Linked DNA regions of Homo sapiens. The protein of the gene in region 2 interacts with the protein of the main gene of each other region in a pairwise test. Each region holds a gene or a part of one and is shown on either strand. Other genes may lie near its edges. The genes, in order: ZNF438, DPH3 and SERGEF.

The links.
Region 1: the proteins of DPH3 (region 2) and ZNF438 interact in binary tests that used the Homo sapiens proteins (3 or more experiments, as listed by UniProt).
Region 3: the proteins of DPH3 (region 2) and SERGEF interact in binary tests that used the Homo sapiens proteins (3 or more experiments, as listed by UniProt).

The regions. Positions count from the first base shown.
Region 1 is NC_000010.11:30,846,821-30,853,929, forward strand, and holds part of ZNF438 (zinc finger protein 438), read right to left. Parts: intron 3,548-7,109; coding exon 1,711-3,547; intron 1-1,710. UniProt on the Homo sapiens protein: Isoform 1 acts as a transcriptional repressor.
Region 2 is NC_000003.12:16,261,913-16,269,725, forward strand, and holds the start of DPH3 (diphthamide biosynthesis protein 3), read right to left. Parts: upstream 3,032-7,813; 5' UTR 2,965-3,031; coding exon 2,857-2,964; intron 2,318-2,856; coding exon 2,243-2,317; intron 1-2,242. Other genes in the region: OXNAD1 (oxidoreductase NAD-binding domain-containing protein 1), read left to right, coding at 3,903-3,947, 7,214-7,363.
Region 3 is NC_000011.10:18,002,978-18,010,086, forward strand, and holds part of SERGEF (secretion-regulating guanine nucleotide exchange factor), read right to left. Parts: intron 5,100-7,109; coding exon 4,964-5,099; intron 3,770-4,963; coding exon 3,614-3,769; intron 1,559-3,613; coding exon 1,464-1,558; intron 1-1,463. UniProt on the Homo sapiens protein: Probable guanine nucleotide exchange factor (GEF), which may be involved in the secretion process.

The DNA.
Region 1 (7,109 bases), on a different chromosome or scaffold from region 2:
AAGAAGCACCTGCTCCTGCTGCCTGGCTTCTCCCTGCTGTCAGCACCTGCTCCAATCTCAAAGCAAGGCTGGGGCTGAGCCTGGGCTCTGCTGTAACCTGGTTGGGTGTGCACACGCTTGAGGCAGTGCTGATATGCCCACCTCCTACCCCATTGGCCTGCTCCAGACTTTGGGTGCCAATAAGCATGGAAGGGAGGCTGAGGAAGGGGTGCTCAGGACAGCTCGGTGCCAGCCTGCAGGTGCCCCCTCAGCATGAACAGCCTGGGTGCCATAAACAGAAGCAGGGAGCAAAGAAGCTCCTGGGCAGAAAAGGGGAGGTCCCCGGTGAAGCCCCACCTTCAAGCCAGAGAAGCCCTGAAGCCTGGGGGCCAGGTTGCCAGTCATGTGGACTGGAGTGGGAACTTGTGGTGCTTTTCTGGGTCTGTCCATGACTGCCCATGGACCAACTGCACGCATTTCCTCTCCTCTGAGGCACATAAAAGCCCCGGACTTAGCCAGACTTGAAGAGACAATGGGACGACCAGTGGCAGAGAGGAGCTACCCTCTCTGCTGAGAGCACAAGAGATGACGGGGAAAACCTGCCTGCAGAGAGGAACTGCCCCCTGCAGTTCAACTCTGAGCTGTTCTATCACTCAATAAAGCTCCTCTTCATCTTGCTCACCCTCTACTTCTCTGTGTACCTCATTCTTCCTGAACGCAGGACAAGAACTTGAGACCTGCCAAATGGTGGGGCTAAGAGAGCTGTAACACAAACAGGCTGAAACACGCCTCTTGCTTGCCACACAGCAGGTGAAGAGAAGAGCTGCGGCCCTTTGGGGAGCTCTGTCCTGGGAGCCCCCTGAGCCAGGGCAGTGACTCCCTAGTCTCCAAGCTTCTGGGCAACATCATGTTCCTGGTGCCAACCGTGGAAGCTGCTTGTGATGTGCCTGGTCCAGCCACAGCCTTGCAAGGAGGTGGCACCTGGAGCTGCCTGGCCTGCAGCAGCAGCCGGCGTGCCTGCCTATGCGCAGTGGCCAGACCCCACGCTCACTCACACATCCCTCACCACTCTGTGCCTGGCTCGCCCTTGGCAGGCATGGGATCTAGGCCGGTAGCATGAGCTGAGTGCAGCCTGCTAGGTTCCAAGTGGGTGGAACGAGCCTAATGGGCCAGAGCAAAACTCAGGCCAAGGCGCCACTGGCCACAGAGGTTTCCGGCTGGTGAAATGACACCCCAAGGATCCCATAGCAATAATACCAGGAAGCAGTGCTTGCAAAAAGGAATGACACCAGAAAGAGTGAACCCGAACTGATGGGAAAAACAGGGCAAATGAAGAGGGTGGGGTCTGGGCACCTTAAGGTAGGGTCAACATGACAGACCCACCCACTCTGAGTCCCCAACCATGGGTCATGCCGCATTTTGGGGCAAATGATGCTGTTTAAAATAACGCAAATTCTGTGGATGTGATTTTGGGGGAAATTACTTGTAAAGACCACTGGAACTATATACAGTACTTTACTAGATTGGTTAGGGTAATTCCAAGTATGGATGATCAGAAACCAGAGAGAAACAAGATCATTCTTCACAGATCTAGGAGGTATACATAGCTACTTTATGAAATCTTAATCCTAGAGATGTTTTATAAACTCTCCTTTCTGAATATGAAATCTTCCCCTCTTCCCCAAATCAAAACAGACTCTCTTGCCAGGTCTCCATTACATTGGCACTCACCTCTCCAATGATCCCTCCATGCCTCGCACACTCATGTCTCTGTTCTTTGGTATGTCTCCTGGCTGCAGTTCACTGGGCGCAGGCTCAGTGCTGATCACAACCCTATGCACTTCTTTCAGATGGCCAAAATAGACTCGGATGTGGCCAAACACTTTTGCACAAAACTCACAACACATGAGTTTCTTCAGACGGTTCTCACCATGATGAAGTTTCATGTGTGTGCTCAGGCTGCCAGGACGTACATAGGACTTGCGACAAATCCGACAACTGTAAGGGCGTCTGTTGGTGTGTGTATTCATGTGGTCTCGAAGGTGCTGTTTGAACTGGAAGTGGTGGTTGCAGACGTGACATCTGTGCCAAGGCTTCTTAATGCCAGAGAATCCATTTCTGAACACGGAGCTGGGCTTAGGGGAAGAGCTGTTGTCTTGCTTACAGCCAAGATATTTAGGAGTGAGTGAATTATTTAACAAAACATCCTGTCCTAGGCCCCCAAGCATCTGGGACTGTAGTGTAGTTGGAGAAGCCAGGGAGGCCAAAGTGGGTATGACCATGATAGGTTTGGGCATAATGCTACGGTATTTTTTCAGGGTCCCCAGCTTTTGGTCTCTGAATTCTTGGGGATCATTTTTTACTCTTTCTTTACCATCTCTACACTTATTAATGATATATTTCCTCCTTTTTCCCTGAAATGCCAAAATTTCATCTGGTACCTTCCGTTTTCTTCCTTTTCTCTTTGCTGCTCCACTGTTCAGTTTTGTTTTGTGGTTAAGATCAAGTTTGGTGGGTGGACAAAAGGCACTTTCACAGGCACTCTGCTGTGACACTTGTGGAACAGGTAGCCTGCTTGCCACCTTGGTGGCTGCATTAAAGCCTTCTGTGGTGGAGGGTATCTTATCACAGTCGGCCTTAGGTCCTGGTAAAGAAAAACCTGCAATGTTAGCATCTGATTTGATTTTGTAAACCTCCATTGTCTTCATTCTTGAGTAGGGTGGGATTGGCAGTTTCCCTTTGGGGACTGAAGAGATCAACTGAACTGCATTGCCAAGAATGGTTGGTGATAAATTGGTCATGGTTTTTGCAAGATCAACTTGTTCTTTAAATTTTTCACTGGCAACAGCAGAAGGTTTACTAGATGTTATCTTGCTTACAAAGTGTGCTTTCCCTGAAAGAGCTGTGAGGTCCTGCTTGGCAGGCTCCTCTGGTGTGGATGATGCTGGGGTAGCAGGAGGGTTCAGACTGCCATGGGTGTTGGTCACTGGTGGTCTCAAGTCCCCATGGTCACTTCCATTGGTCAGCGCAGCTGTGCTAATGCTGGCTGGGGCTTGCTCTAGTGATGGTACTTCCTCAAATGGACTGGGTTTGTACAGGAGTTCAGGGTGGTGAGGTGGGGAAGGGGACATCTGAGGACACATTTGGGTTTGGGCAGGAGCTTTGCTACAGCCACTCTTAGGAAAGATCAGGATGGGTTTCTTTCTTGATGCTTTGCTATTTCTAGGGGGTTGATATCTAGGAATAGGAAGTTTCAGGTTTTCAGGTAGGGACATTCTGGGTTTCTGAATTGGCTGAGCTGAGGCAACATGTGGCAGAGCAACAAGAGAAAATGTCCCCTCCTGGCCAGCAACCTGCATCAGGGCATAGTTCTGGGTGGACATCCCCAGCAGCTTGGAGTTGATGGAGGGTCCCAGATTCACCTGATCAGAGCGTGATGGTGAATGACATGGCAGCATTCTGGACGTTAGGACTTTGGGCACAATTTTTGGTGCAATGGTCCTAAACTGACTCTTATTCTGCAAACCTTTCCTACTCTGTATTGTTCCAGAAGGGATGTTTGATTCACCTGCAATGACAATAAAATATAAAGAGTTACTGTATGTAACTGTTCTGTTAGTGATACTTCAAACAACAAGCATCTTATTTACTCTGCCCAGAACAGATTCCTTGACCTACCTCCAAGCCTTCTGGGCAAAATCTTGTGTCCCTCAAGACCAGCTTGAAGATCAATTCCTGCCTACCTTCCCCAAGGATTTCTATACTTATCTATGGTTCCTTAGCTCCTATTATGTTATTTACCATTTTCCATAATAATTTATGTGTTTATGTGTATCTCTACTAGTCAACACTGCTTGACAGCGAAAATTCCGTCCTTCTCATCCATGTATTCTGCAAGTCCATCCTCTCCATTTAACCTATCCCCACTCATCTTCACATGATGTCTGGTATGTTCTGCTATGTAGTTTATTATTTTATATACATGTTCTGCTTTCCCTATTAAGCTTCAGCTTTGTGAGGGTACAGCCTATATTCATCTCATCTTGATATTTCCCACTGTATCCTTTGTATAAAACAAGCGCTTCTTGTATCAAACTCATTTTTCACTCAATCTCAGGATACACCATTTGACCCACTGGCAGTTGAATTTGTTTTGCACAGTGGATGCATTCCAGACTGAATGCTAGCTTTGTTGCTGTTTCCCCATGTGACTTACGAATTTCTTCTCACACCTTTCAAACTGTTTATGTGTGCTTTTGCAATTAAATCACCAGTATTAAAAAAGCTGATGTGACACCTTTAAAAAATGTTGAACAAAAAACAGAAAGATACAAAGTGATAAGTACAGATACAGAGACAACATGCAAAATATGTGAATGGCATAAAAAGCACCTTCTAGGATACTAATAGGAACAATTTTGACTGATAGGGTAACACTTCATTCTTTCTGGATTTATTAGCCTGACCTAAGATCAATTACTACTACCTTAAGAGAACAATTAAGGAAACATTTTGGTGTCCTGCTTCTAAAGACTGAATTATCTATTTTATTCTCTGAGGTCTCAAGGTCACAAGACCTGGCTGCAGAAATGTTTCTAATTTCTAAGTATCTCATATTAATCAAACTTCAATTCACATTTACTAGGCACCTACATTATTCCAATCATTATCCCAGGATTGGCTATTGCCAAGTCCACAATCCCTTTTCTGAAATTTTTGGAGGAAGATGTGGTTTGGAATTTATATTTTCAAATTTTGGAAAAGTAGTAAGATGCGTGTACTAAATGTTACATAACTCCCAGCGGAATCTGCAGGGCACCCATAATTGAACCTATTACCACTTCTGTAGCAAAACATGCAAATATTCGCAAGTTGGACAAATGAAGATTTTTAAATTGTCTTTATTTCAGTTCAAGTTTTTGCTTCTGAATGAGTTTGTAACAACTTTTCATAAACTTCTGTTTTCAGAGTTTTTTAGATTTTAGAGTTGGGGGTAGGGGACTGAACACTATCTGTTAGAGGATACAAGGTAGGTAGCAGACAATCTAGTGAAACAGACAATTGAAAATGTAAAATCAGCTGGGCACGGGGGCTCACGTCTATAATCCTAGCACTTTGGGAGGCTGAGATGGGCGGATCACTTGAGGTCAGGAGCTTGAAACCAACCTGGCCACGTGATGAAACTCTGTCTCTACTAAAAATACAAAAAAAAAATTAGCCAGGCATGGTGGCAGATGCCTGTAATCTCAGCTACTGGCGAGGCTGAGGCAGGAGAATCACTTGAACCCTGGAGGCAGAGGTTGTAGTGAGCCGAGATCGCACCACTATACTCCAGCCTGGGCAACAGTCTGAGCGAGACTCCGTCTCAAAAAAAAAAGAAAAGAAAATGTAACATCAACCTTGATTTTCTTTTTTCTTTTTTTTTTTTGAGACGGAGTTTTGCTCTTATTGCTTAGGTGAGTGCAATGGTGCGATCTCGGCTCACAGCAACCTCTGCCTCCTGGGTTCAAGTGATTCTCCTGCCTCAACCTCCCAAGTAACTGGGATTACAGGCATGTGCCACCACACCCAGCTAATTTTGTATTTTTAGTAGAGACAGGGTTTCTCCATGTTGGTCAGGCTGGTCTCGAACTCCCGACCTCAGGTGATCTGCCCGCCTCGGCCTCCCAAAGTGCTGGGATTACAGGCATGAGCCACCGCGCCCGGCCCGTCAACCTTGATTTTAATGCCTACAGTGAGTGAATTAACAATTTTAGCAGGAAGTTGATTCTTTCAGCAGAAATGACACCGCCTAAATAAACAAGCAACCTAGTAGAAATAAGGTGAAATTTATATTGACCAGTTTATTTTTAGAAAGTAATTGTTTTGCAAAGAAAAAGGACATTATGAAACATAAGTTCACAGGATAGCCTGCACGAGAGTAAGAAGTACAAGGACTAGTGAGTGCTATTGTCTGGAAAAATCAGACAAAGATAATTATGTTATTTGTTGTTTTCCTTCTGAGTTTGGTTACCGTGAATTCCGCTTATGGGTAAATTGAGTGGTAAATCACTTGACAATAGTCATCTGTATGGATTGCTACTTCTTCCTACATAATTTTAATTTTTAAGTTTTATTTTCATAGCCTTTAAATTTAAATGTTTTTCATTTTAAACCTCACCTTCTCATCTTTTTTTTTTTGGAAGAAGTACCAAAATAAGTCATAAATAAACACTTTAAATCAGGATTGAGAGACTTTGCAGAAAGCCTAAAATTATTGATGGCTTTTGGTTACTTAGAGATGTGGCTTAATAAATAATTACATTAACAGTAATAATGTTCTTTGCATTTACACAACAGATCTGGGGTGTGGAAGGAAGAGAAGAGAAAATATTGGGTCATTTATCACTAGTTCTTCCTCCTAACTGGGCAGAAAATATTTACCGCAAGATGAGCTAGAACAAAGGCTTAGTAATTCACCCTCTTGAAAGAATATGTGACAATAACACATCATAGCACAAGATCTATGACTTCCTCATCTCAAATCTGTCCAATGGCTCTTCATCTCAGAGTAAAGCCAAAATCCCTGCAATGGCTTAAAAGGCCTCATGCTTAAAAAGGTTCTCAGGAGCCTCTTTGACATATTTCCTCTACTTGCTCCACTCCAGCCATGGTGGCCTCTTTGCTGTTCTGGGCATGCACCTCCTGAGAGGAGGCTCCTGGCTGGGAGGAGCATTGGCTACTCCCGCCCACCCAAGACACTCTTCCCTCAGTAAATCCCCAGTACTTGCTGCATCGTTTCCTTCAAGGTTTTGCACAAATGGCTTCTTCTCAACGAGCATCTCCTCTGATGACCTTATTTAAAACTATATCCCATTGTGAACTCCCTGCTCCCTCTTCCTGTTTCATTTTCTCTAGAACATATGCTCCATTTATGGCCAGGCATGGTGGCATATGCCTGTAATCCCAGCACTTTGGGAGGCTAAGGCAGGCAGATCACTTGAGGTCAGGAGTTTGAGACCAGCCTGGTCAACATGGTGAAACCGTTTCTACTAAAAATACAAAAATTAGCCGAGTGTGGTGGCAAGTGCCTGTAATCCCAGCTACTTGGGAGGCTGAGGCAGGGGAACTGCTTAAACCTGGGAGGTGGA
Region 2 (7,813 bases):
CCTGGATGCCATATTCCAACCCCTCTGGACCTCCACCATATTCATCCTACCACCCTTTCACTGCCCCTCACTCCCTTCATGTTCTCTTTACCTAGTTCAAACTCCATGGTCAGTTATAACCACTCTTCTCTCACTCCTTACTATTCACTTGGGAAAACCTTAAACCTGGTTAAATCTAACTTTCCATGTCTATATTCACTAATGAAGGCTGAATTTCTACCACCTTAAACCCTCTCTTGATCCTCTATCACCACTGGTTACTGTCCCATGTCTGTGCTCTCCTTTGCAGCAAACTCCTTAAAAGAAATGCCTATACTCACTGCCTTCTGTTCTCTCATTCTCTCCAACCAGTATTCTGCCCATTGGTTTCTTCACTCATGCGCTGTTCCTGTTACTCCATGGAAACTGCTCTCATCTCCGTCACAGATGAACTCAGTGTTGCTAAAGCTAATGGTTAATTCTTGATTGCTTCCTATCAGTGTCACGTGACAAGGATCACCACTTCCTCAATCCTTTCTCATCTGGTTTCCAGGATTTGACACTGCTGATTTTCCTCCTTTCTCAGTGGTTTCTCCTTTACCATCAGCTTTGGTGATTCCTCGCTTCCCTCCCTGACTTTTTAATACTGTAGTGCCTTAAGGCTCAGTCCTGTATTTTATCCATCTCTACATTCACAGACCTGGTGGTCTCATCCAATCTCATGGCTCTAAATGCTATCTGTTACTGATAACTCCCAAATTGACATTGCTAGCCAATCTCTCTCATGAACGCCAGACATGCATATCCAATTGCCTTCTCAACAGCTCAACTTGGATGACAGACCTCTCACTTAGTATGTACAATTTCAACCCCTATACCTATAGTTACATTCCCTCAATTGACAGTAACTCCATCCTCCCAGTTATTAAGGTCACAAATATTGAAATCATCCTTGTCTCACTCCTTCACACCCTATATCCAATCAGTTATTCAAAGCGTATCCAGAATCTAAGTACTTCTCATTATTTCCATTGCTGTAACCAGGTCCAAGCCACCCATCTCCTTCTTTAATTAGTGTAATAGCCTCCTATTACACTGGTTTTCCTGTTTCTATGCTTGCTCTCTATAGGCTACTCTGAACACAGCAGCCAGAATCATTTTTTAAAAAACTTAAGTTGGATCATAGCACTCCTATGTTCAAAAATCCCCCAATGGTTCCCTATATCACTCACAACAAGAGCCTAAGTCCTTAAAGTGATCCACAACTTCTTACGCTACTCTCATCCTGCTCTGCTCTGGTCACACTGGCCTCCTTTTTGTTCCTTGATAAAATCAGGCATGTTCCTGTCTTAGGTCCCCTTCACTGAACGATCCTTTGCTCGACTCTCTTACCTCATACCCTCATATGTACATGGCTCACTCCCTCACCTCCTTCAAATCTTTACCTATTAAGGCCTTTCTCAGTAAGGCCTGCCATGATCACCCTATGGAAAACTGCAACTTCCTCCCAGACCAGCACTCCTGATCTTCCTTACCGTTTGCTTTCTGTTGCAGAGCACATTTTAATACAAGAATGAATCATTATATTTCTAAATTATAGTCTAAATTATAGCCCGCTTCTCTCATGAGGCTCTGTGCCTCATCCCCACTTTCCCTATATTCATTTTGGACTTCATCCTTGAGAGTGTTAAGGTCCTTACCTAAGATTCCATTCCAAGTACTGAACAAAACTTTGGGTAGGAGTGGGCAGTAATAACATTTTTTTTTTCTATTGTCAACATCCTTGGGTGAAAGATAATAGGGCAACTAAAGACTAAAATGAAATTGTAAAGCTGCACCTAGGAATTATATCTCAAACAAGATAATGCAGAATTCTGTGTATAAGCCAGCACGAAATACCATACAATTGTTCCCTTCAAAGTAAGTCTAGCAGCTCTAAACAATTTTAATTACATATTAAATAGAAGAGAAATATAAAAAATTGTCCACTAAAATAATCTATATACTTTCTATTTAATAAATAATAATTTTCACTAAAGCTAGATTTATCTCTAAAGCTAAAATAAATTACGTAATCTGAACTTTAAACGTTTTAATTTACTATTCGGCTGTTTATCAATGGTGTTTAAAACCTGCCTAAAAAAATACCGCACTTTACCTAGCACAATGAAACATTCTCCTGCACTCATCACTGACAAGCTGATCTAAGTCCTTGCCACTGACTTACAATACCCTTCCCCCGTTTTAAAATTATATCCCTTACTTTGTCATAAATCACTTTTATAATGAGAGAGCAGCTAGGACACGTTGCCACGTCTTCCCCATTCTCCAAATCTTCCTACAACGAAATCAAATACCATGTGGTCAGGATAGCTTCTCTTCGCCATCTCCTCCCCCAAACCTATCCCACCCCTAGATGCAAGTCTCTTGGTGGCTTGCCTTCCCCCCAAGGTGGGTGAGAACCCCAGGGCCTTCAGCGAGAAATGCCGACATCATTTTCCCCTAGAAGCGTCACTTAGGGGAAACACCTAGGAAGGTCAGGCGAGCTTCGGTCGCCCCAAAAGCCCTGGGAAACAAAAAACGAGTCCCCTCCTCGACAGAAATATCCCAGGTTGGGACCCTAAGGCAGGGATCGGGCAGAGAGACAGAGGCTCTCCGCCACCCTCTCCCTGACCTAATCTAAGGCCAGAACTGCGTGCCTACCGAGAGAGCTCAGGGCATTAGTTGGGGTGGGGGGACGCGGGAGGAGGAAGATTCAGCAACGGGAAAGAGGGCGTGGGTGACACAGCGCAGCAAAGGCTACCCAATGATGGAAGGAACGGGCGGAACCAAACTGCGCTTGCTTGGGTGAACCGCCGGGCGGGACCCTGAAGTTACCTTGGTGATGGAGAAGTTATCTCCACATGGGCAGGGATAGAAATACGTCTCCGAGTCCTCGTCATATTGGAAGTCCTCGATTTCCACCTCGTCATGAAACACTGCCATGGTCAGCGGGGGTGGCCGAAGGGGTAACGCCCCAGCAGTCCGAGGCCAGCTCCGAGGGTTTAACTTCGCCGGAACCGGCCTGGGCTCGGCATCATCAGGTCGCGCCGGGCAAGGACTAGCCCTTCCGGCGCATAGGCAATGACGCAACTCCGCCCTGCGCGGCCAAATGGATAACCGGTAGCGGTCACCATGGAGATGGCTGAACTAGGGGCGGAGACACTGGGAAGACTGAAAGCTTGCTCAGCGGGGTCGCGCACCGCTCCTCCTATTGGGCGGCAGCGACCAATAGAATGTGGGGCTCGCCCGCGCTGCTACGTCACGTCTGGGACCGCGGAGTATTCCAGGCGCCTGCAACTAAACGTGGCCGGGTCTGCAAGCTAGGTGCCAGCGGGGAAAGTTTCCCTGCTTCTTATCGTCTGCTTTAACGCCTTAAATAGCCCGCTGAAGGCTGCAGCAGGTGCTAGGTAGCAGCCTCCCGGCCCTCGGGAAAGGCGGGGTGGGGAGGCGAGAGCAGCTTAGCCTCCTCGACCTCCCTTCCTGGTGACGGACGAACAGTTCCCGTAGAATTTCGCTTCACCGAGTGACCTTGAGCCCAGGGCGACGGTCAGCTTGTTAATTCCTGGCTGCAGGTACATTCCGCTTCTTCCTCACCCCAGACGCCTTAAAATACCCTAAATTGTGTTGCTGAAAGGACCAAGCCCTGGAAGGCAGGGATTGAGTTCTAGTCTTCTGTTTGCCAGGCTTATAACATTATTAACGACGATGATTTTTAGTAATAGTAATAACATCACCTTTTATTATTGGGAAGTTATGTGCCAGCTATTGCACTAAGTGGAATTGTCAACTCTAGGAGTTTACATGTTATTCCATTTTATTAATCTTTAAACTGAGGTACAGAGAGTTGGGCATCTTGACTAAAATCATACACCTGGGAAATAATGAAGAGCTTGTCTGTCTCCAAAGCCCAGGAACAAATTACTTATGTGAGTACCAGTTTTTTCGTTGTGAAAGAAATGGTGTCAGTAGGCAGGTTTATCAGTGTGAGGCCTATGTATGCCTTGAAGCGAAATGCAGATAAAAGGCATTTTTGTCTTGAAAGCAGTGCTAGTGCCTGTTTTGGTAAAACCGATTACATTGGGTCTTACTTAATTACTAGGCATTTTAATATCTTAGTAGAGAAGAAATGCATTGTAGTGAAAAAGCACTTTCGAGAGAAGATCTGGGATCGGAATCTTGAGTTGTTGATTACCTCTGGCAACTGGATATTTACATTCTTTGGGCCTTATTTCCTCTTCTAAGAAAGGATTGGAGTAGAGATGATATAAGATCCTTTTTAGATGTAATGTTCCACTTTTGCACGGAAATTATGAGCTTTACTTGGTTCAGCAATGATATATAACATTTAGTTTACATTTACGTAACACATATACATAATATATCCCTGTGCACTTTTGAAGAAAACATTACAATGACTACTAAACTTTACATTTATTCCTAAAAGGGCGGATCACGAGGTCAGGAATACGAGACCAGCCTGACCAACATGATGAAGCCCCGTCTTTACTAAAAAATACACAAATTAGCCAGGTGTGGTGGTGTGCCTGTAATCCCAGCCACTCAGGAGGCTGAGGCAGGAGAATCTCTTGAACCTGGAAGGCAGAGATTGCAGTGAGCTGAGATCACGCCACTGCACTCCAGCCTGGGCGACAGAGCTAGACGCTGTCTCAAAAAAAAAAAAAAAAAAAAAAAAGAAGTAGGTCATAATTGTATAATGCAAACTATATTTGATGAGTGCTGTTGTATATCAGGCCAGAAGGAGTTGTTTATTGGCAATACCAAACCTCCACCTCTCTAGGTTGTTTGACAAGGAAGAGAAGGGGTCAATGTATTAGGATTGATTTTAGTAACACTGTTGCTTGCCAGGTACTTTGGTAGACATTTTATTTATTCCTCTCAGTAATCCAGTGAGGTGGCGTGGGTAATGTTAAAATGGCAAGAGGAGACTTGCTGAAGATTAGAAAGCAGGAAGGAGTCACACCTGAGCCCAGTTCCGCTGATTTCCGGTCAAATACTCTGTGTATACTACTTGTTTACCACTAAGGTGTCTTTGCCTGTTGGAGCAAGAGGAGCCCTTTTTCTTCCTCAGTGACACCTAAGATTCTAAATTGACAGATGTCATGATTGTTCTTTGAACTTACTTAATTTCAGTGCATTTATGCTTATTGAGGCATTCTTGGCTTTTCTCTGTCAGTGTCCTCTCACACCCTGCCTAATGTATCAGCAAGTTTTGGGGCTCTAATTCCAAAATATATGTCATGTTCATCTACTTCTGCCATCTCTGTAGCTGTTACCTTATTATAATCTTAGACCAGAGTCTTTTAACTGGGTTTCCTGCTTCCACTCCTGCCCCTCTCCCTCTGTTATCCTTCCCACAGCAACTTGAGCAGTCCTTTAAAAATATAAATTAGGTCTTGTCCTTCTCCTGATTGATTCAGACTTTTCAGTTGCTTCCCATTACCCTTAGGATAAAATTCTTACCCTTACTATAGACTGCTGGACTTCATCTCATTTCACTCTTACCAGCTTACTGCTCTCCAGTCACACTGGCCTTGGTTCCTTTAACATGCCGGGCTTATTTCTGTGTTGGACCTTTGCTCTTGCTAGTCCTTCTGCCAGAGTTGTCTGCCTTTAACATTTGCTTGGCCGCCTTTTCCTCATCATTCAGATCTCAGCCAAGGTGTCATCACTGGAGAGATGTCTTTCTTGATATTTCCCCCACCTACCCCATCACTCTTACTCCCTTTATCATACTCATCATAATCTATAATTATCTTGTTATTTGTTTACTACTATCTGTCTCTGGAACTGTAATAAAAGCTTCATGATGGCAAGGGCCTTGCGTCTGGTTCTTTATTATATCTCCAAGGCCTAAAATAGTGCCTGGCACCCCTGTAGTTGTTGAATGAACTGAGTATACCTGTTGAACTGAAACCATATAATTAATCTTAAATGTTAAATTTAATCTGTTGCTTTCAGAAGTTTGTTTTACTACATATTTAATGGGTGTCAGTTTTATTTAGCACTTATTATACTTTTCTGCATTTCAGAAATAAAGTTAATTAAGATTTTTTGGTAAGGGAAGGCCTGTGAGGATACAGACATTGATGGGATGGTCTACTTTATATGGTTTTAGAAATAACTTGATATATATTGATCTGCTGTGGTTGATTAAATGCTTACAGTATGGAACCGCCGGACATATTTCAAAAAATTAGTAGGTTTTAAATTTTTTATATTTTATTTAAAGGACTGGCATAAAGCTTTGGAAAGCACTTTAAACAGAATTTTATAAAAATGTCCTTTATTTACCAGTAGGTGGCACTCTTGGTCATGGTTACTTTCACAAAATAAAATCTTAGGATTTTAAAGAGAACTCCTTTTTTTTTTTTTTTTTTTTTTTTTTTTTTTTTGAGACTGAGTTTCGCTCTTGTTGCCCAGGCTGGAGTGTAATGGCATGATCTTGGCCCACTGCAACCTCCGCCTCCCAGGTTCAAGCGATTCTCTTGCCTCAGCCTCCTTAGTAACTGGGATTATAGGCGCCCGACACCACACCTAGCTAATTTTTTGTATTTTTAGTAGAGATGGGGTTTCACCATGTTGACCAGGCTGGTCTCAAACTCCTGACCTCAGGCGATCTACCCACCTCATCCTCCCAAAGTGCTGGGATTACAGATATGAGCCACTGTGCCCGGGAAGAACTACTTTTAAAATTAACATTTGTTTTCCAGTTCAGTTGAGAAGGGGACCATTCAAACAGCATAATCATTAAATGATGTATCCTATTGTGAGGACAACTTATTTTAGCAATAGTTGTCTAAAACATTGAACAGAACAGTATTTCCATATTTAACAATATAGTGGTTAAATTTTATCAGGGAACTTGGCCTTAAATGACATGTAACTGTGTCATTCTAGCCTTTGGTCTGCTGTTTCCTGGGGTGGATATCCTAAGTAGCAGGTGTTAAAGACAGGCAAGGAAGATGAACAAAATAAGCTGTAAGATAAATAATCAAAAAAGAAAAATGGAAGCATGGAGGAAAGAATGGATGGAGAGGGGGTAATTGAGAGTGGGCTTGTTGTGAGGTGATGCCTACTGATTTTAATGAGCCTTTCCTTTGGCAGCTAAGAGGTAATAGTGCTTTTGATCAGTTCCCCAAAACATTGTTATATGTTGTTTGTGCCATTGCAGGAACTTTGTGAGAATTTTAATGCATGGAAAAGCTGTCCATGTTCCAACTGCTGTACATCCAAAAGTCTCAGTGTAATAGCAGGACCAAAATATTCTGTCAATCAGCTGACCATATACTTAATGACTCCTAAAATCTCGTGGACTTCTAAGGTAAGTTTCAACTTCTTTCTTTCAGGGATTAAGGTAACATTATTGACTTAGAACATTTAATGGAGAAAAACTACGTTTAGTGGTCTTGAATGAGGTTGAAGAGGCCTTCTGCTTTTTTCATTTAGTAAAGAGAAAAATAGCAAGTAGCATGCTTATCCGCAATGATGCTGCAACATACTATGACAAGAAGAAATATATCGTTTATCTAAAGACTAGTTATGAAGCAGTGAGCTTTTTAATATGATTTGGGTATAACCAAATAAACTGCATATGACTTATATCACCATCAGATTTATTTATTTTTATTTATTTTCTGTCTTCATCTATTGGAATGCAAGCTCTCTAAGAGAGTTTTTGTTTTCTTCATGCCTAAAGCACCATTGCTTAGGCCAGTGCCTGCCACATAGTGGACTCTTGATAGATACTCGTTGAATGAAGGACCAAATTAAT
Region 3 (7,109 bases), on a different chromosome or scaffold from region 2:
CTAAATTAATTATAACTTATATGTAGGTGCTTACAAGGCCATCTATTTGCAATTGGGAGCTATAATACTTCCTTCAGGGACTACAGAGCCTAGACTTTGTGCATACCATGGGAACCATGACCCGAAATAACAGTCCACAGACCAACAACTGAGTTCAGCAAGCTGGCAGGGGCAGACCCAAGCTTTCTCTAGGGAAAAAACATCTCCCACTATTAATCAGAGTTTAGGGAAATTAGATCGGAGTGGGACAGCTTAGGTGGTAAAACTCATTTTTGATTCAAGCATATTTCTTTAAAAATTCTATATTCCTATTATGATCACTTACAATATAAACTTCACAAAAAGGGGTGATTTTAAGTATGATGCACTGAAGTAAAGAGCTCTGAACTAGAGCCAAGAGTCCTGTTTAACACTTGTTTTGTCCAATATGGTAGCCACTACCTACACATAGCTCTTGAAAACTTGAAATGTGATTACACTAAACTGAGACATATTGTAAGTAAAAAATGCATACCAGAGTTCAAAGACTTAGTACAAAATCAGTATAAAATACCTTGTTAATAATTTTTATACTGAATTAGCTGGGAATGGTGCCAGGCACCTGTAATCCCAGCTACTCGGGAGGCCGAGGCAGGGAACTGCTTGAACCTGGGAGGCGGAGGTTGCAGTGAGCCGGGATCGCGCCACTGCACTCCAGCCTGGGCAACAGAGTGAGACTCCATCTCAAAAATAAAAATAAAAACAAAAAATAACTTTATACTGATGACATGCTGAAATAACAGGCAAATCTATAGAGACAAAAAGTAGATTAGTACTCACCAGGGGCTGAGGGGAAGGGAGAATAGGAATTGACTGCTATTAAGTACATAGTTTCTTTTGGTGGTAATGAAAATGTTCTAAAATAAGATAATGATATTGGTTGCTCATCTCTGTGGATATACATTTTAAAGGGGTTAATTTTATGGTATGTGAATTACAGCTCAATAATGCTGTTATTTTAAAAATTACTTTCACCTGTTTCTTTTTTAAATAGGGCTACTAGAAAATTTTAAATTACATATGGCTCACATTATATTTCTACTGGCTAGCACTGGCCTATACCATTTGCCTAGCTTAGTGTCTTTCGACAAATCACTTCTATCTGGACCTATTTCTAACATAATTTCCATTATTACTAATTTTAGAACTGTAAAATGTCATCAATATCCTTATGAGATGTATTACTCTTATTGTTTTATTTCACAAAACTTCATATGAAGTGTATGAAAACTAACAGAGGTTTTCATTCACAACGTTTACCTCCCAACTTAATTTTTCCCAGAAGGACCTATTTTTCAACTCAAATTCTCCTACTCCATGGGTTCTCAGGGATCCTGACAGCCTTTTATTCTGGGGAGAGATAGGTTAATACCTTGGAAACACTTTAACAGGTCATGGGCAAGCTAAATATTAACTGTCCTCACCTCAATGGCCTGGGGAACCACACATCTTCGAGGTCCATGAGGAACTCCTAACTGGCCAAAGGAGTTGGATCCACATGATAGAACTTGACCATTTTCTGCAAAATACAAATACTTAAATTGCAAATCTATGAAGTAAGATGTCTGTGACCAATGGGTAAATGCTGCAGGGTGAGAGATGCAAAGGGGATGAGGGGAAGTGCTTCAGTGCATTCAGACCATATTCCCTGCTTTTATTCCTCTAGGAATGAAAACACTGGGCACCAGGTTAAGCACTCTACACAGATTGTCTATTCTATTCTCTCATTAATAACAGATTATCTGTGTAGAACACTTAACTCAGTGCCTCGTATTGGGATGGGAGGATAGTAATTTTTCATTTTTCATGTTTCCATGTGACAAAATTTCCATTAGTAAAACAACACTCCAGCTTTTCTCCCTGCCCTTCCCCATCCTCACTGCTTTCTAGGGGACAGCGGTCATGTAACCAACTGGTGAGTTTAGGAGATGGGACAGGACATGTGTGGCTTGGCACCTCCCTCTCAGTCATTCTAGGCTGACACATAGGAAGCATTTCCCTGTGGGGAAAGCCTAGAGATTTGGGGGTAAGTTTGGACCAGAAGAATATTAGGACCACTGGCCTCATAATTAATACTGTCCTCCAATTTAGCCTTTACCAGTGAAAAGCCAATAGTTTTTAATCTCCAATACTGACTTCTCTGTGCTTTTCTCACAACTGGCTCCAAATGTGAGCAGGAAAGAGCATTATCTACTGACTCCTTACAATCCAAAACATAGGCTCACAATAAACACCTTATAAATGATAGTTATTGTTTAGATTCTAATAATCACCATCAAATTCAACACATATTACAGAACCCCTCCACAGAGGAGGATGGTGACACTTGAGCAGGGTTTTAAAGCTGGGATTCGAGTCCATCAGATAGACAAGAGGGGCTGGTCCAGACAGACAGAAGAACATATACTGCTTGGTATGACCAGAAAGAAAAGTATGAGGAGTGTGGAGAATAAGAGACACAGCACAAAGATAGCTAGGGAACAGTTACAGAAGGCCAACGCTAAAAAGCTAGGAATCTGAGCTATGTCTGGGAGAATCCACAAGGGTTTATGACAGGAGAGTGACAGAAGATGCCCTTGCCAAAGGACCGTGGCAAAGAGGGAGCCTGGTCAGAAACCACAGATGGTCCTTTAAATCCAGAATGGCCAGCTAGACAGAGCAAAGCTGAACAGAGAGGTCAAAACTGCTTCAAGGGAACAGACGTCAGCTGACAAGGTAACTACTGCTGGCTGTTCCCAAGTGCATTACTCTAATAACCCTCTGGCCATATCCTATCCTGCTACCTGGCTTCACAAAGACCAAACAGATCTGCCTAACACATTTAGAAAAAAAAAAATCCCACAGTGTGAAAAAGCTGCCATCACTGCTTTGGCAACCACTATTGCCTCATATTCTCCTACCACATTCCCTGTAAGTAACCCTCTGCTGCCACTGCTGGCCACTGGCCAGCTACCCCAAGCACACAGCTATCATGAACTTTTGGGACAGGAAGTGGCCACCAAAGGTGATCTAGTCTATTCCCTACTCTCTGACAAAAGTTTTCCACCCCAATCCCAGTCTCCTTTACCGTTAAACTCTCCTTAGAAAAGGTAGTCCACAACTTTCCTTGACAACCAGAGGGAAAATTTGTGTGTGCTTTTTATTTATTTTTATTTATTCTGAGATGGATTATTGCTCTGTTGCTCAGGCTGGGGTGCAGTGGCGCAATCTCAGTTCACTGCAACCTCCACCTCCCAGGATCAAGTGATTCGCCTGCCTCGGCCTCCCAAATAGCTGGGACTACAGAGTAGCTGGGACTATAGGCATGGGGTACCACGCCTGGCTAATTTTTGTATTTTTAGTAGAGACGGGGTTTTACCATGTTGGCCAGGGTGGTCTCGAACTCCTGACCTCAAGTGATACACCTGCCTTGGCCTCCCAAAGTGCTGGAATTACAATTGTGAGCCACCGCACCAGGCCTTATGTGTGCTTTTTAAACACAAAGAGGCTTTCATTTAATCTGCAGTCACCATCATCATACTGTTCTCACCCAAAGCCTTTGTGGTGACAAAAATCTACCTAGGAGTGAACTCACCTGTGAGCATAATCGTAAAATCCCAGCCACAGGCCACCTGTTGGATGGGACAGCCAAAGAGGGATTTGCAGGGGGTAAAATATGGGATATCCTCTGTGTGACCAAGCCCCAGTTGCCCATCTTTGTTCAGGCCACAAACAAAGAGGTCTCCTCCATCTGCAAAATATAAAGGCATCAGTGATAGCGTGCACAGGAAAAAACACAACTGCAAAATGAACAAAAAGATTTCACTAATTATTTGGACTCTCAGACCAATAACTTTTTTTGCCATCCAAGTTAATAAGCTGTGTATGTTCATGTATTCTGGAGCCAAACAACACAAGGCCAAGGGCCTCAAACTAATACCTACAGAGAAACTTCAAGTCTTGGCGCAGTGGTCAATCAATCACCAAACTGAGCATCTACTGGAACAAAAAGCCAACAACATTTATTCAACATTGAGAACGTGCCAGGTACTGTTTTAAGAGCTTTTTGTGCAGAGCGGACTTATCCTTTAGGCACAGTGTCTAGGGCCCACAATGCTTTCAGAGGCCCACAGAGTGGCTTAATTTTTAGTTATTTTTAAATGAGAAAAAGATAATATAGTAACAATGCATATATAACACTAAATCTGGAGTGGATTCTATTAATATCCATCTTTATACCAACACAGTTGTAAAATATAATTTTTTTCTTTACAAAGGAAGAGGTCCATAAAGGGAAAAGCACCAACGACCCATGACAGTCGGAATGGAGCCCTGCTAACTCACTGGTTCTCTTCACCCACCATTATTATCCTCATGTAACAGATTCAGAAACTGTGGCTATTTGCCCAAGGCCACATAGATAATAAGTCACAGAACCAGGATCTGAACCCAGAGATTTGATTCCAGAGCTCATGTTCTCAACCAGATGCAATATGCCCCCCTTTACAACATTGTAGCACTTGTACTACTTGTTAAGTGCTATCCTAGATACAGTAAGGGAAGATTAAGGGGAACACACAGTTTTTGCTCTCAAGGAATATCCAATCTAATTACAAAGACTTCTAATTCCTATGGTGTAAAATATACATTGTAACTCTGCCACTACTTTGCCTTGTGATGTTAAGCAATCAGTGTTCCTTTCTGAGTTTCATTTGTATAATGGAGGGGGTGGGGGAAAGGGGTGGCCTAGAAGATCTCTGAAGTCCTTCTAGCCCTGAAAATCTAGGATCTTCTGATGGTAATTTGGCTCTTTCACAAAAATGTTTCACAAAAATACATTATTTTCCTCTGCAAAATACAAAAGGCTGAAAGATGGCAATATCATATCCAGGGGAAAACGTCTAAATAAGAAAATGAGTGACTATCTACTTTTGAAGGAAATTACCTGTGACAACTGCAGAGTGGCCCCCTCCTCCTGTGATCCTCCTGACACTCCTGGGTTTACAGAAGTCATTCAGTTGCTGGGGCAACAGCACATCTTCCTTATGGCCGAGGCCAAGTTGCCCATAGCTATTTGCACCCTAGGGATGAATAAGCCAAGGATGAAAAAGTGTGGGAACCACAACTGTCAATGTCTATTTACCTGTCTCTGTCTCTCTCACCCTGACGTATCTCTCAGACCCTGTAACAGATGAGATTTATTAGGCTCATTCTTTTTTAAAAAAAAATTTTTAGCTCCTTCACGGCAAATACTCACAGCACTGTTTATTCAAATATATAATAACAAGCACCAGAAAACAACAGGTAACACTGTCTCCCCACCCCTGATCTGTAATCCCATTAGAAAGAGACTCATGACCATAACAGTGGAGGAAATTCATGTCCAGGAAAGTTCCTAGGTAGGCACCCTGGCAGGCTTAATTTACTGGGGCAAAGGACAAATGCCCTGCTTGGCCTCCTGCAGCAGCTGAAGAAACCACACTTTTTTCTACCTCAGGCCCCAGAAGGCAAAGCAGCAATGCTAGCCATGGCTGAAGGGGACATGAGTCCTATGAGGTCCTTGGCCTAGCCCAACCCTCTGGAGGTAATGGGGTAAAATGGCCTTTCCTCTTAGAATGGCCAGGAAAAGAGAGGCCATCTCCTAAATCAAGGTTCTTCTGACTGAGAACAAGACAGCCTCTTGAGGAGGAGGGGCTTCTCTTCTCTAGAGAGAGTTCTGGGCTACGAGTCGTTGGCAGGTGTATCTCGTATCTCTCCTTACCCCCTCCTCCTGCACCCATGCCACCTCACTGCTTTCCCTAGCTGAACTTCAGCCCCCAAATGAGAACACTATCCAGCGTGTTTCAAATAAATTATAAATATGGACACAGAATCCAAACAAAGTTCCAGGAGAAGCTGCTCACAGACCCCTACAGGGTCCAACCTGAAGAAAAATGAAGGTCATTCCTTTGTTATCTGTGTCTCTGGAGCTGTGGGCAAAACTGTCTCCCCTTGTCCTTGAGTAACCACGGGAACAGCTCAGGACAGAGAGAGTTTCAGACTTAGAAACACTCTTACCCCATCTCCTTTCTTCCCTCCTCAAATCCCTTCCCCAAAATCTGAAAAGAAAAATAATAATAATTCGCTCACCAGAAGGACTCTGGAGCATTTGGGAATGTAAATCTTACCCTTCCTTTGTCAAGTGGGAAACTGACCAAAGAGGAAATGACCTGTTAGGCTCATTCTTAACGGCTGTTATATGCTCCCATATTTAGATGGAGGCCCCATCCTCAGAACACCATGATTTCGATATGAGAAGAGTCCTAGGCATCCACAACTCAGCCAGTAATATTCCTCATCTTTCCCTTCTTATGCTCCAGCCCCCAGGTACTGCCTTTTGGAGACAGCACAGGGGTTCCTTCTGATAAAAGCTAACTACCTAGGGAAGCTAAGGAAAGAAAAAAATGAGAGAGAAATGGCATCAAAATGGGAGGGCAACATCCTGGAATTAGTTCTTGTTTCTCCTCCCCACACCCATGATGGGAAAACCAACAATGACTCTGGAATCAAAGCTGGCTAAGGATTTCTTGCCTTAAAGCAAGGCACGTCATTATTTCATTTGTACAGTGAAAGAGGCTGGCAATGATCTCTAAAGCCCTTTCCAAGTACAGTGCTATGTGACTCCAAGATTCACATGGTGAGATTCCAGTAAGGGGACAGATTTCCCCTTGACAGGCAATATGTCTATTATTATTATTATTATACAAAAAGGGTCCATAATCCCTAATCTGAAATGCTTACAGTCAGATGTATTTCAGATTCAGAATTTTACAGCTTTTAGAAAAGTAATACAGTACATATGTCATATATACTGATGCAAGGTCCAGGGACAGCAGCCCATAAGCAAAACAATAATATTTCTGCATTACAAAGTACAAATATTCATAAGAAGTGGCCAAAGACTATAAATGGCCTTATGTCCAGTAAGTTTTGGGTTTTCAGAGCTTTTTGTATTCAGAATTGAAGACAAGGGATTGTGGACCTGCAGAGAGAATCTTACTAAGATTTCAGAAATCTTTATAATTTATTCAAGTACCTACTCCTAGCTGGTT